Regions from separate parts of the Homo sapiens genome. Here region 1 is linked to region 2. The links come from fine-mapping of genetic effects on gene expression. A gene starts in region 2. The other region holds a variant in brackets. All regions are shown on one strand. Distances are between the middles of the regions. Region 1 has its middle 22 kb from the start of ZNF852. Region 2 holds the start of ZNF35 (zinc finger protein 35).

Region 1 (5,384 bases), 120 kb before region 2:
GTTCCCCAGCAAAAGAGAGGCCGTTGCTAATTGGATGAGTCAGAGTCCCAGACATTAGCTGGCCAACCTTATTTAGTGGACATGATAAATGTTTCTTTTAAAGCTGGGACCTTCATTGCCCTCTCTTTTTGTGACTTTGTTCTTCTGCTATGGGACAGGGCAGAGGGTAATAGCCTGAGATTTGGTTGCAGCCTCCAGAGGGCAGTAGAAGTCTTGCTTGAGTCTGATCTAAAAAGCAGGACAGCATATACTGATCTTCATGGTTTCTTGGTATGATTATTAATGGCAGACCCTTTCTTTCACTCATTTTTATTCTACAGAGTTTCCCAGTTTGGACAATAAATTATGGTCATCCAAGAGTCATGTCATCAAACTCATCTTCAGCAGAGGGCCTGAATTAGGGAAACAGGCACCAACTCAGTAATGATGAGATACAGTTGGTAAGTTCCATTTCCTAACAGGCTACTGTTCCTTGCATGGATCTCCTTTGGGAATTCAGCATGGAGGAAGTGGGACTGGCAGAGCAGGAGTCAGTCTTCCCGGATCCTTCATCAGAATATTTCATTTCTAATACAGGACAAGAGGAGTGATTCTCTGTTGGACTGGGAGGCCCAATAATTAAATGGGGGCAAGGGATGGAAATAAGAACATTCAAGGCCAGGCGTGGTGACTCATGACTGTAATCCTAACACTTTGGGAGGCTGAGGCAGGTGGATCACCTGAGGACAGGAATTCGAGACGAGCCTGGCCAACATGGTGAAAACCTGTCTCTACTAAAAATACAAAAATTAGCTATTCAGGAGGCTGAGGCAGGGAATTGCTTGAACCTGGGAGGCAGAGTTTGCAGTGAGCCTAGATTGCACCACTGTACTCCAGCCTGGGTGGCAGAGTAAGGCTGTCTCAGGAAAAAAAAAAAAAAAAAAAAAAAATTTGAAAGGAACACAGTCTTTGAAAGAATGAGAAACAATGCTTTCAATGGGGAGTGGGTACAGGCCATGAAGAGGGAGCTATCTCGCTGTGTCTTAAACCAGAAAGCTCTGCATGTGAGGTGGGCCCAGAAAAGATGAAGGTGACTCTAGAAAGACCCAGTGTGCCTACGGGTGTAAGCCTTCTAAGTCTCCCTGTTTCTGGTTTTTCCACTCAATTTTTACTGCACCAAAGAGCAGACAAGGAGGAATATAGGAGAGAAAGCATGGGCCATAAAAGACACTAATATAGTGTTACAAAGTCCAAGTCTATCCTTAATCACAATGTATACAAACATGTTATGTTTCCTCATTAAAAGGAAGGAGGGAGACAGAGAAGGGAGGAGACTTTTTACAAGAGATTTACCTACAATAAAACCAAACAATAGAAAAGGTTGAAAAGAAAGGAAGGAAAAAGGGTACACCAAGCAAGTTCTAACAACAAGAGAAAAAGCTGTGTAGAATTATTAATATGAGACAAAACAGACTCTAAGGCTAAGCATTTAATGGGCATAGAATGGAATATTTCATATTGATAAAAAACCAATAATCAATCCCTAAGTTGTCGAACAATGTCCAAGTCAGGAAACCTAGAAGTTACTCTTTTTTTCTTTTTTTTTGAGATGGAGTTTCCCTCTTGTTGCCCAGGCTAGAGTGCAATGGCACAATCTCGGCTCACTGCAACCTCCTCTGCCTCCTGAGTTCAAGCGATTCTCCTGTCTCAGCCTCCCAAGTAACTGGGATTACAGGCATACACCACCATGCCTGGCTAATTTTGTATTTTTAGTAGAGACAAGGTTTCACCATGTTGGCCAGGCTGGTCTCAAACTCCTGACCTCAAGTGATCCATCTGCCTCAGCCTCCCAAAGTGCTGGGATTACAGGCATGAACCACCACGCCCAGTCTAGAAGTTGCTCTTAATTCTCCACCCTCTCACATCTAAAACATCAGCAAGTCCAGTTTATTCTTCTTCCAAAATGCATTGTAAATCCACCCATTTCTTTCCATCTCCACAGCACATCATCCCTAGTCCTGGCCACCATCTTCTCTCAAATGTAGTCCTGCAATGGTGCTCTAACTGGCCTCCTGACACTGAAATTAATCTCCCCCAAGCAACTTCAAATTGGTTAACCTGGCCAACATGGTCTTCCGCAGGCAGGCCTCTGCCCAACTCTGACTGCACCTCTGACACTGTGACTCTCATCCAGGCACAGTGGCCTCCCTTCTGTCACCTGATCAGCCCAATCAGTTACATCTTGAGCCTTTGCAGCAACTTTTCCCACTGCATAGAATGCTCCTTTCTCACACCTTCAGGGGTATAGCAGTCCTTTAAAATTCATCTGTTAGTTTAAATGGCACCCCCTAAGAAAGGAGGGTGAAGTTTTTCAATACTTGTTAATATAGGAGCATAAGAATTACTGTAATTATCTTTCAACCTATTTGTTACCTTTATAAATAAACTTCTTATGACATAGACTACTAACACTAATCTGTGAAATGTTGAATTATGATGAAAACAGAGAACTGAGAGGCTGGGCACGGTGGCTCGTGCCTGTAATCCCAGCACTTTGGGAGGCTGAGGCAGGAGGATTACTTGAGGCCAGAAGTTTGAGACCAGCCTGGGCAACATAGTGAGACCCCTGTCTCTACAAAAAAACAATATAAAAATCAGCTGGACGTGGTGACACACACCTATAGTCCCAGCTACTCAGAAAGCTGAGGAGGGAAGACAGCTTGAGCCCAGGAGGTCAAGGATGCAGTGAGCTATGATCACACCACTTCACTCCAGCCTGGGCGACAGAGTGAGACCCTGTCTCAGAGACAGCGAGAGCAAATGGGGGTAGGGGGGAACACTAAGGATTCTCCTTCAAATAGTCCAATTTATTTCTTTTTTGTTTTTTTGAGACGGAGTCTTGCTCTGTCGCCCTGGCTGGAGTGCAGTGGTGCGATCTCGGCTCACTGCAACCTCCGCCTTCAGCGTTCAAGCAATTCTCCTGCCTCAGCCTCCCAAGTAGCTGGGATTACAGGCGTGCGCCACCACACCCGGCTAAATTTTGTATAAAACAAGTACCATCCACTAGATGGCGCTTCTAGCCTGTTCTATCCTGTTCTTGACTCTTTTCAGGACCCT[G/A]GACAGTGCCTGGTGTACAGCAACCGTTCCGTAACTATTGAATGATTTGTCATAAACTTACATGCACCCTGAACCTATCAGCACAGCTTTAAAATATATAAGGCAAATGGGTCTACAAAAAGAAAGAGACGAGTGTGAAGCCAACCCACACCCCTTAGAAACATACTAGGGAAACCCAAAACAACAAAGAACTTTTTAAATGCAAAAGTAGAATGACTGCTTTTACCCTCTGTATTTCTGAATTATTTTTTCAGGATTAATATGTATTACTTTGATAAATGAGATTAAATTTTTCTTCATGTTCCCTTCTCAAATTGTAAAGTCTTTTACTATGGTTCTAAGGAGCTGGTCAAACCTGTTCAGGGGTGTTAAGTGCACACCAAGATGGAAGGTGACAGGAAGGTGTATAACATTAGGATTATATTTAGGTTTATTCTTTTTTTTTTTTTTAGACGGAGTGTTGCTCTGTCACCCAGGCTGGAGTGCAGTGGCATGATCTCAGCTCACTGCAATCTCCACCTCCCAGGTTCAAGTGATTCTCCTGCCTCGGCCTCCCAAGTAGCTGGGATTATAAGCCTGCACCTCCACGCCCAGCTAATTTTTGTACTTTCAGTAGAGACGAGGTTACACCATGTTGGCCAGGCTGGTCTCAAATGCCTGACCTCAGGTGATCTGCCAACCTTGACCTCCCAAAATGCTGGGATTACAAGTGTGAGCCACCACGCCCAGCCTGTTTAGAGTTATTCTAAAAATCATAACTTCTTGGAATTAAAAAAGTTCTATACATGGCTAGTAACCCCTTCTGCAGCTGAAACTGACTACAAGTCCCCTTCTGTCACCCAGAGTGACCAGAATTGTGTTCTGTGAGGGGCAGGGTTCACTGGATAGCATGAGGTGACGTGCCAGGCTGAATTCTCTCCCTGCAGTGGAGGCTACTCTACAATAAAGTGAAAGGAAGATCTGACCTAATGCCCTGCAGAGCTTCATTTCTCCCACCATCTGGTTTTGTAAGGAAAAAAAGTATGTGCTTCTATGTATTTTTTTTAGCACTACTCCTTAATTTAAATGTCTATTTAAAAAAGACCAAAGCTTAACTGGTTATCTTTGAAATATAATTTCTTTTTATTTTCTTCTTTTACTTCTTTATATTTTCTTATATTTCTACAATCATAAGTACAAATTAGGTGGCAAAGAAATGATATAAAAGAAGCATGGTATCTGCCAAATCAAATTCTCTGGATGAGCTAATGCCCACCCAAGTGGCAAGTTGAGGAAAGGAGGGTGCTGTTGACTTACGGTCCATTTCTAATCTGTCCTGAGCGTTGGTAAGGCCAGGGGCTGGACAGTGGGCTATTGGAGAGGACTCCAGTCTCAGGCCAATGTACTCGGTACTTCCATCAGGAGGGTATGTGGCAGCTGGCCCTTCCATCCACAGTATCTTTTGGGCAGCTATACTGATCACTGTGGGAAAGAGAGTTTCTGCGGTGCCAGCTGAGTTGGTCTTCCCTGTGTGAGACACCCAAGGGGAGCCATGGGCGGCCTCTGAGGAGAAAAGTCTTCTTATTGCCTTCATGTCTTTATGCCCCGACAGCATAACCACTCAGCAGAATTCCACAGTTGCTCAAGGAGGTAACACTCCCTTGAAGCAGTGGAGTATAATCAAACATCTTGGCCCCTCCTGAAAGCCACTCCCACCCATTTCAGTCCCGATAAGTTAAAGATCTTAAGTAGTTTAGACACATGCCTTTGCTCAAGGAAATTCACAGAAACCACCACAGCTACACATATTATTGAATGACTCATGAGTTCTCCTTCACTGATTAATCCTTTTCCTCATCCCTTCCTACCCCTCCCATCTGCCCTAAGAACAAAGAGCTTGTAAACCAATAAATCAGGCAGAGCCTGGGCTGTGAGCAAGCCTCCGATGCTCAGGTCCCCTGGACCTGCTTTTTAAACGCTTATTCTGTCTCTTTCTAACTCCTTTGTCTCCGCTGGACTCAGGGTAGCAGGTGGTGTGGGGCTGGTTTCCCCAAACAATCACTGTAACAGATAAGGCAACATAAATACACTTTCTCATAACTTGTCATCTGCACTAGATTTAACAGCAGCACCAGTGATTCTGCAGTGCCCTCCAGGCACTGGAGCAGGATGACTTTAGGCATTTCTACAAACCCAAAACCTCCTTTCCTTTGTTGCCTCTCTTGACTCCACCCAGGGGTGCTTCTGTTTGAGGACTCATAGGGGAGCCAAATAAAGAACATATTGGGCCCATATTTTTAAATTATTTT
Region 2 (5,384 bases):
TTATGGCCAGCCATTAACAGTGATGCCAAGGAAAACAATTTATTTCCCAGCTTTTGAATTTGAAACTTAACAGATGGAGAGTGTCAAAATGGAAGGGCAGTGGTACCCTGCTTTCCCTATTCAGAGGGAAAAAAATCCTTGACCCGCAGTTGAGCTGATGATCCCTGCCACAGTCATTGTGAATTCTAATCAATATTTCATCATTGCTGTCAAATGATAGCCTGTTACTAATGAAACAACATTCTGTCCCAGCACTAAATTTACTGGGACATAAATTTTTCACATGGAGCCAAGCTCTTCACTGATTAAGCCAGTGCAGAATCCACTTGTGGGCAGTCAGTGCCCATTACCCCCTGTGAACCATTCTGTGCCCTTGAGTACATTTGTGGGTTTAACTCAGTCTATATTCTTAAGTTGGTAATTTTTATGTTGTAATTCTCAAAGTTCTGTTTCTGTAGCTGGACTATGAATAATACCTGAATATGAAGATTGTGTTTTTTAATAATGTCAAAGTGGTGTGTTGATTATCATAAATGTTATTAATTCAACCCCACAGTTTCTTGGGGGCTGGTTCCTCATTAGAGTGAAAGGTAGCCAAGAGTGAAAACTGGAAGGGGCCTAAGGCTTAAAGTCTTAAGACCTGGATGTGGTTCAGGTTTTGCCATCTGCCTCAGAAAAAATCTCTTCAGTTCTTGGAGCCTTGAATTCCTCATCTGTTAAACAGGAGGAAGAATATCTACCTCACAAAGTTCTTATGAGATAATGAATATAAAAATGTTTCATCCAGGTTGTTGAATCATCCCAGCTTATATAATAATTACAAAGGACATATGTACTTTAACAATGGAGAATGCTGTGATTTACCTCTTCACCGAGTAACAAAATGTCACATTGCTTAGATTGAGACAGCCCACATAATGTGCCACCTTCTGTGATGTAATAAGCTGAAAAATGTTCAACCTGAATTTAATCAAGCTTCTTGGACCTCATTGCCAGGTTACAGGAAATACAGGAGGCAGAGGAACAAATAAAAGACACCACGAGAAACAGACACATCCAGAACGTGGAATATTGCATAAGAAAGCTGCCCTGGATTCTTCAAAATATTATTATGATGAAAAAGAGAGGGGAGTGAAAATTGTTCAAGCTGTCTTGAGTCTGCTGTGAGTTTATTATACCATTCTCTGCTTTTGTGTATGTATGAAAATTTCGATATGAAAGGTATAAAACATGGATGAGGAGGCTTGTTTTTAAAAGATAATACTAGAGAGCCGTTAGGTACTAAGAACCAGAAATAGACTCACATAAATGGCCAATTGATTTTTGACAGGGGCAAAAGCAATTCAATGGAGGAGGGATCGCCTTTTCAGCAAATACTGTTGGAGTAATTGGATATCCATAGGCAGTAAACCAACAACTTCAGGACCTAGGACTGAGCTAAGAAGGCTCAGATGACTCAAAAGCATGCTCCTTAGAAGGAAAAAAAATGTTAAATTGGACTTCATCAAAATTAAGATAATTTACCCTGTAAGAGACCTTTTTACAAAGATGATATTACAGGTTGGGAAAAAATATTTGCAAATCATATCCAACAAGGGATTTGTATGTAAACTACATAAAGAACTTTCCAAATTTAACAGTAATAAGTAAATACAATTAGAAAATAAGCAAAAGACAGACATTTCACTGAAGTATAGATAGCAAATAAGCAAATGAAAAGATGTTCAACATCATTAGGCATGAGGGAAATGCAGAGTAAAATCGTGAGATATCACCTATCAGAATAGCTTAACTTTTTTTTTTTAATGGTGGTAACTGCTGGCAAGGATGAAGAGAAACAGGATCTCATACATTGCTGGGAATGTAAAATGGTACAGCCACTCTGGAATATAATTTGGCAGTTTCTTGTAAAACCACACATGTATATGTCATGCTTCAGGAATTGCACTTCTGAGCATTTATCCCAGAGAAATGAAAACTTGCGTTCACACAAAAACCTGTATACGAATGTTCATAGCAGCTTTATTTGTAATGGTCGAAACCTGTAGGCAACCCATATATCCTTCCTTAGGTGGTTAAAACAAATTGTGGTTTATGTATTACCATGGAATACTTGTTACTCTGCAATAAAATTGACTTATTGATATCCATAACAACTCAAATAAATTTCAAGGGAATTAATGCTGAGTGAAAATAATCACAAAAGGCCATATTCTGTATGAAAATATTCATATAACATTCTCAAAATGATAAAACTATAGAGATGAAAAATGGATTAATGGTTGCCAAAGGTTAGGGATGGTGGGAGGAAAAATGGGGAGAGGGTTGGATGGAACTATTAAAAGGTAGCACCAGAAAGGTCTTTGTGGTGATGGAACACTTGTGTATCTTGATTGCAGTGGTGGTTACACAAATCTATAGGTGCTATACCTATACACACATACTGTACCAATGTTGATTTCCTTTTTCATTTTATGTAAGATGTAACCATGAGGGGAAAGTGGGTGAAGGGTGCTATCTTTGCAACTTCCTGTGATTCTATCATTTCAAAATAAAAAGTAAAAACCAACAATGGCAACGAAAACCCAAAACTAAAGAGCTGTAACCAACTAAAGTGTGTGAAACTGATTTGAAAAAAAGTTATAAAATACATGTTTTAGGACAGTTGGGAAATTTGAATATGACTGGTTATTAGATGGTATTAGGGAATTTTTGTTGATTTTCTTACCTGTGACGGTGGTGGTAGTTTGAAGAATATTCTTAATCTTAAGGGATGCATGTTGAAGTATTTGGAATGAAGTGTTCTGATGTTTACAACTTTCAAAAAAATGATTTTAAATATGTATTGAGAGATCAGGCAAACATAGCAAAATGTTCATTGTTGAGTCCACATGGAAAATACGGGTATTCAATGTGCCATACTTTCAACTCTTCTGTACTCTGATATTTTCAAAATAAAACATTTGAGGGGAAATTATCAGGGCTTTCTACAGATTAATGCTGTGTAGCTTCAGGCTCTTGGGTGCGCGCCTCGCCTGAGTGTCTCATCCCTGCTTGGGATGCGCCCCTCCCTGAGGCTCACTTAGAGCTTCCAACAGCACAATCCTCCTAAGCGCTTCTGCCCCATCCCTGGTCTGGGGCGACATTGGACACCCATCGAGAGGAAAGCACCTCCGAGGTTCCTAGAGAGGCCGGCTTGGCGACTTGGGGAGCCGGAAGCCCATCCCGAGGCACTTCCTGTCCGGTCATTGTTCTCGTGCCGGTAGAAGCTGAAGTACCGGTCAGCCAGCCTCCTGCTGCAGAGCCAGTGAACTCAGGTCGGGCTTCTCAGCTGCGCACAGTGAGTGGGGTCGGAGGGGGTGGGCACGAACGTCGAGGGAGAAAAAGGGGCTCTCCCAGGGGCCATGGCCCTAGGAGCGGCCCCTGCGTCCTTTCCCCGGGGACACCAGCCTTGTCTGTCGGGGTGCGGGGGGCAGTGAGTTCCCCACCGCCTCGGAATCCCGGCTGCTGCCCACCTGGGGCCTGGTCCGGGAGAGGATGCACACGGACCGGCCAAGGGGCCAGATAGGTCCCAGGGACAGGGCCGCGAGGAGCCTATACGTGGAAAGAATGGATTGCCACGTTTGGAAATAGAGAAAGGACGTTGAAAGGGAGCCTTTGATAGAGGGCCCTGTGCCGTCTGGGACCGGAGGTCCGTCAGAATCTGATCAGAAGTCTGATGAGAGTACTCACTGTAGGCAGTCTTATACACAAGGTGGAACTAGTCTTAAGGACCTTCATACCAGATTGAATTCGGATAGTGATGGAAAGAATAGTCCTCCAGAATTAAGGTTTGTCACAGGAATGAAAGTATTGCATTACTTAATAAATTCAGTGTATACAGTAAGTGGCCAGTAAGTTGACATGGGGAAAAGAGTATGATCACTTCAATAGCAGCAACAGGGGATTGAATAAGATTTCGCACCCTTTTCCAATAAAACATTCAAAGGGGGTTAGAAAGAAAAATTTCAATCTCTTCATAAGCAATCAAACTAGTAAGGTTATTTTGCTCACAGGTTAAAAACAAAAACCCTGCTGGCTTAGCTGTGATAAAGGGTTACTGTCAATTAGTGGGGGTGTGAATTGGCATGGTGCTTTTGGAAAGCAATTTGACAGTACATATCAACCAGCAAATCCTTGAACCAGTAATTCTCTGATTATTCTAAAGGAATAATTCAGCAAAAAAAAAATATTTACAAAGAAAAACTTTTAAATATTAATAAAATGGAAATATAAACTTTTACTAAATAAATGGTTCATAAATAGAATATGATTAAGTAAATGATAATATAGCCACAATTTAGAATACTATGCCAGAATGAGGTAGTTCTATATGTGTTGTATTGAAAGATTGTTAAGACTATTGTGAAATACGGAAATTGAGTTAAAAAACAATGCAGGTTGCTGAACAGTATATAACTGTGATGATCTAAAGTATGTTTTTGAAAAATAAGCAATATGTGTGAAGGTGAACATATAAGTATGTAAATGCAGAGAAAATGGGTTAGGACTCCCATCTAAACTGATAAGTACTTTGTGTGTGTGTGTGTGTGTGTGTGTAGTGTGTGTAGGTTATATATTTAATTCTATATATTTCTGTATTACTTGATCCTTTTTCAATGAGAGTGAAGATTTATCAACACCATAGGTTATTGTGTAGCATTTAAAATAAGCATGAAGAATGGCAACATGAAAGTAATCTTTTTTTAAATCTTAAGTGTAATATTTTATCTCACAGGACATTTGGAAGCTATGGAAAATGTAAAAATCAAACAAAAAAAATGAAAAGAACCTTAAAACTACCTGTAATTACACCATCCAGAGTTAACTACCCACTGCTAACACGTTGGTATAAAGACTCCCAGTCTTTTTCTTGGGATCCTTTTGTTCACATTATTTTGTATCCTTGGCAATAAAAAATCTTTTTGTTGTAAAATCCTTTTTTAAAAAATGCTATGATGATAATTGTGAAAATATGTATCCCCAAAGTCAAAAACAAGAATTTGTAAAATCATAATTATTAGTAGTATGGTTGGAGATTTTCCTTTGAAAGAAATATCTTAAATCTTAAAATGTATAGTGGTTATCTCTTTGGAGGTAGACCGAGATGATTTTTCTTAATCATTTGCTGCTTTTAAGTTTTTACAATAAAAGTAAGTTAACTTTTAATCAGGAAAAAATCAATAAACATTATATAAAGCTGTTTGCAATGTGGTTATTATGGGAAGATATTACATATTTATAGTCCAACCCCTTCATCCTATGAGGGAGGAATAGAGGATTCCATGTCCTACATTGGCCCCTGGCCAGGCGCTGGTGAAATTTGCCGGTGTGGCATCCGGCAA

Evidence for each region.
Region 1: its variant is fine-mapped to the expression of ZNF35 in whole blood (TOPMed, PIP 0.99).

What each region holds. Positions count from the first base shown.
Region 1 is chr3:44,529,931-44,535,314 of GRCh38, forward strand. No RefSeq gene overlaps it. Among named protein-coding and RNA genes, the nearest start is that of ZNF852, 22 kb to the left of the region's middle. RefSeq lists silencers at 2,927-3,055, 2,947-3,241. The variant G/A (reference allele first, on the strand shown) is at 3,097.
Region 2 is chr3:44,645,495-44,650,878 of GRCh38, forward strand. ZNF35 (zinc finger protein 35) reads left to right here and starts at 3,238. Exons shown (of 4, transcript NM_003420.4): 1 at 3,238-3,340. ZNF660-ZNF197 (ZNF660-ZNF197 readthrough) reads left to right here. Exons shown (of 8, transcript NR_147692.2): 8 at 1-2,977. ZNF197 (zinc finger protein 197) reads left to right here. Exons shown (of 6, transcript NM_006991.5): 6 at 1-2,977. The region is part of intron 2 of ZKSCAN7-AS1 (ZKSCAN7 ZNF cluster antisense RNA 1); the gene reads right to left. RefSeq lists enhancers at 2,923-3,482, 3,361-3,530, 3,611-3,720.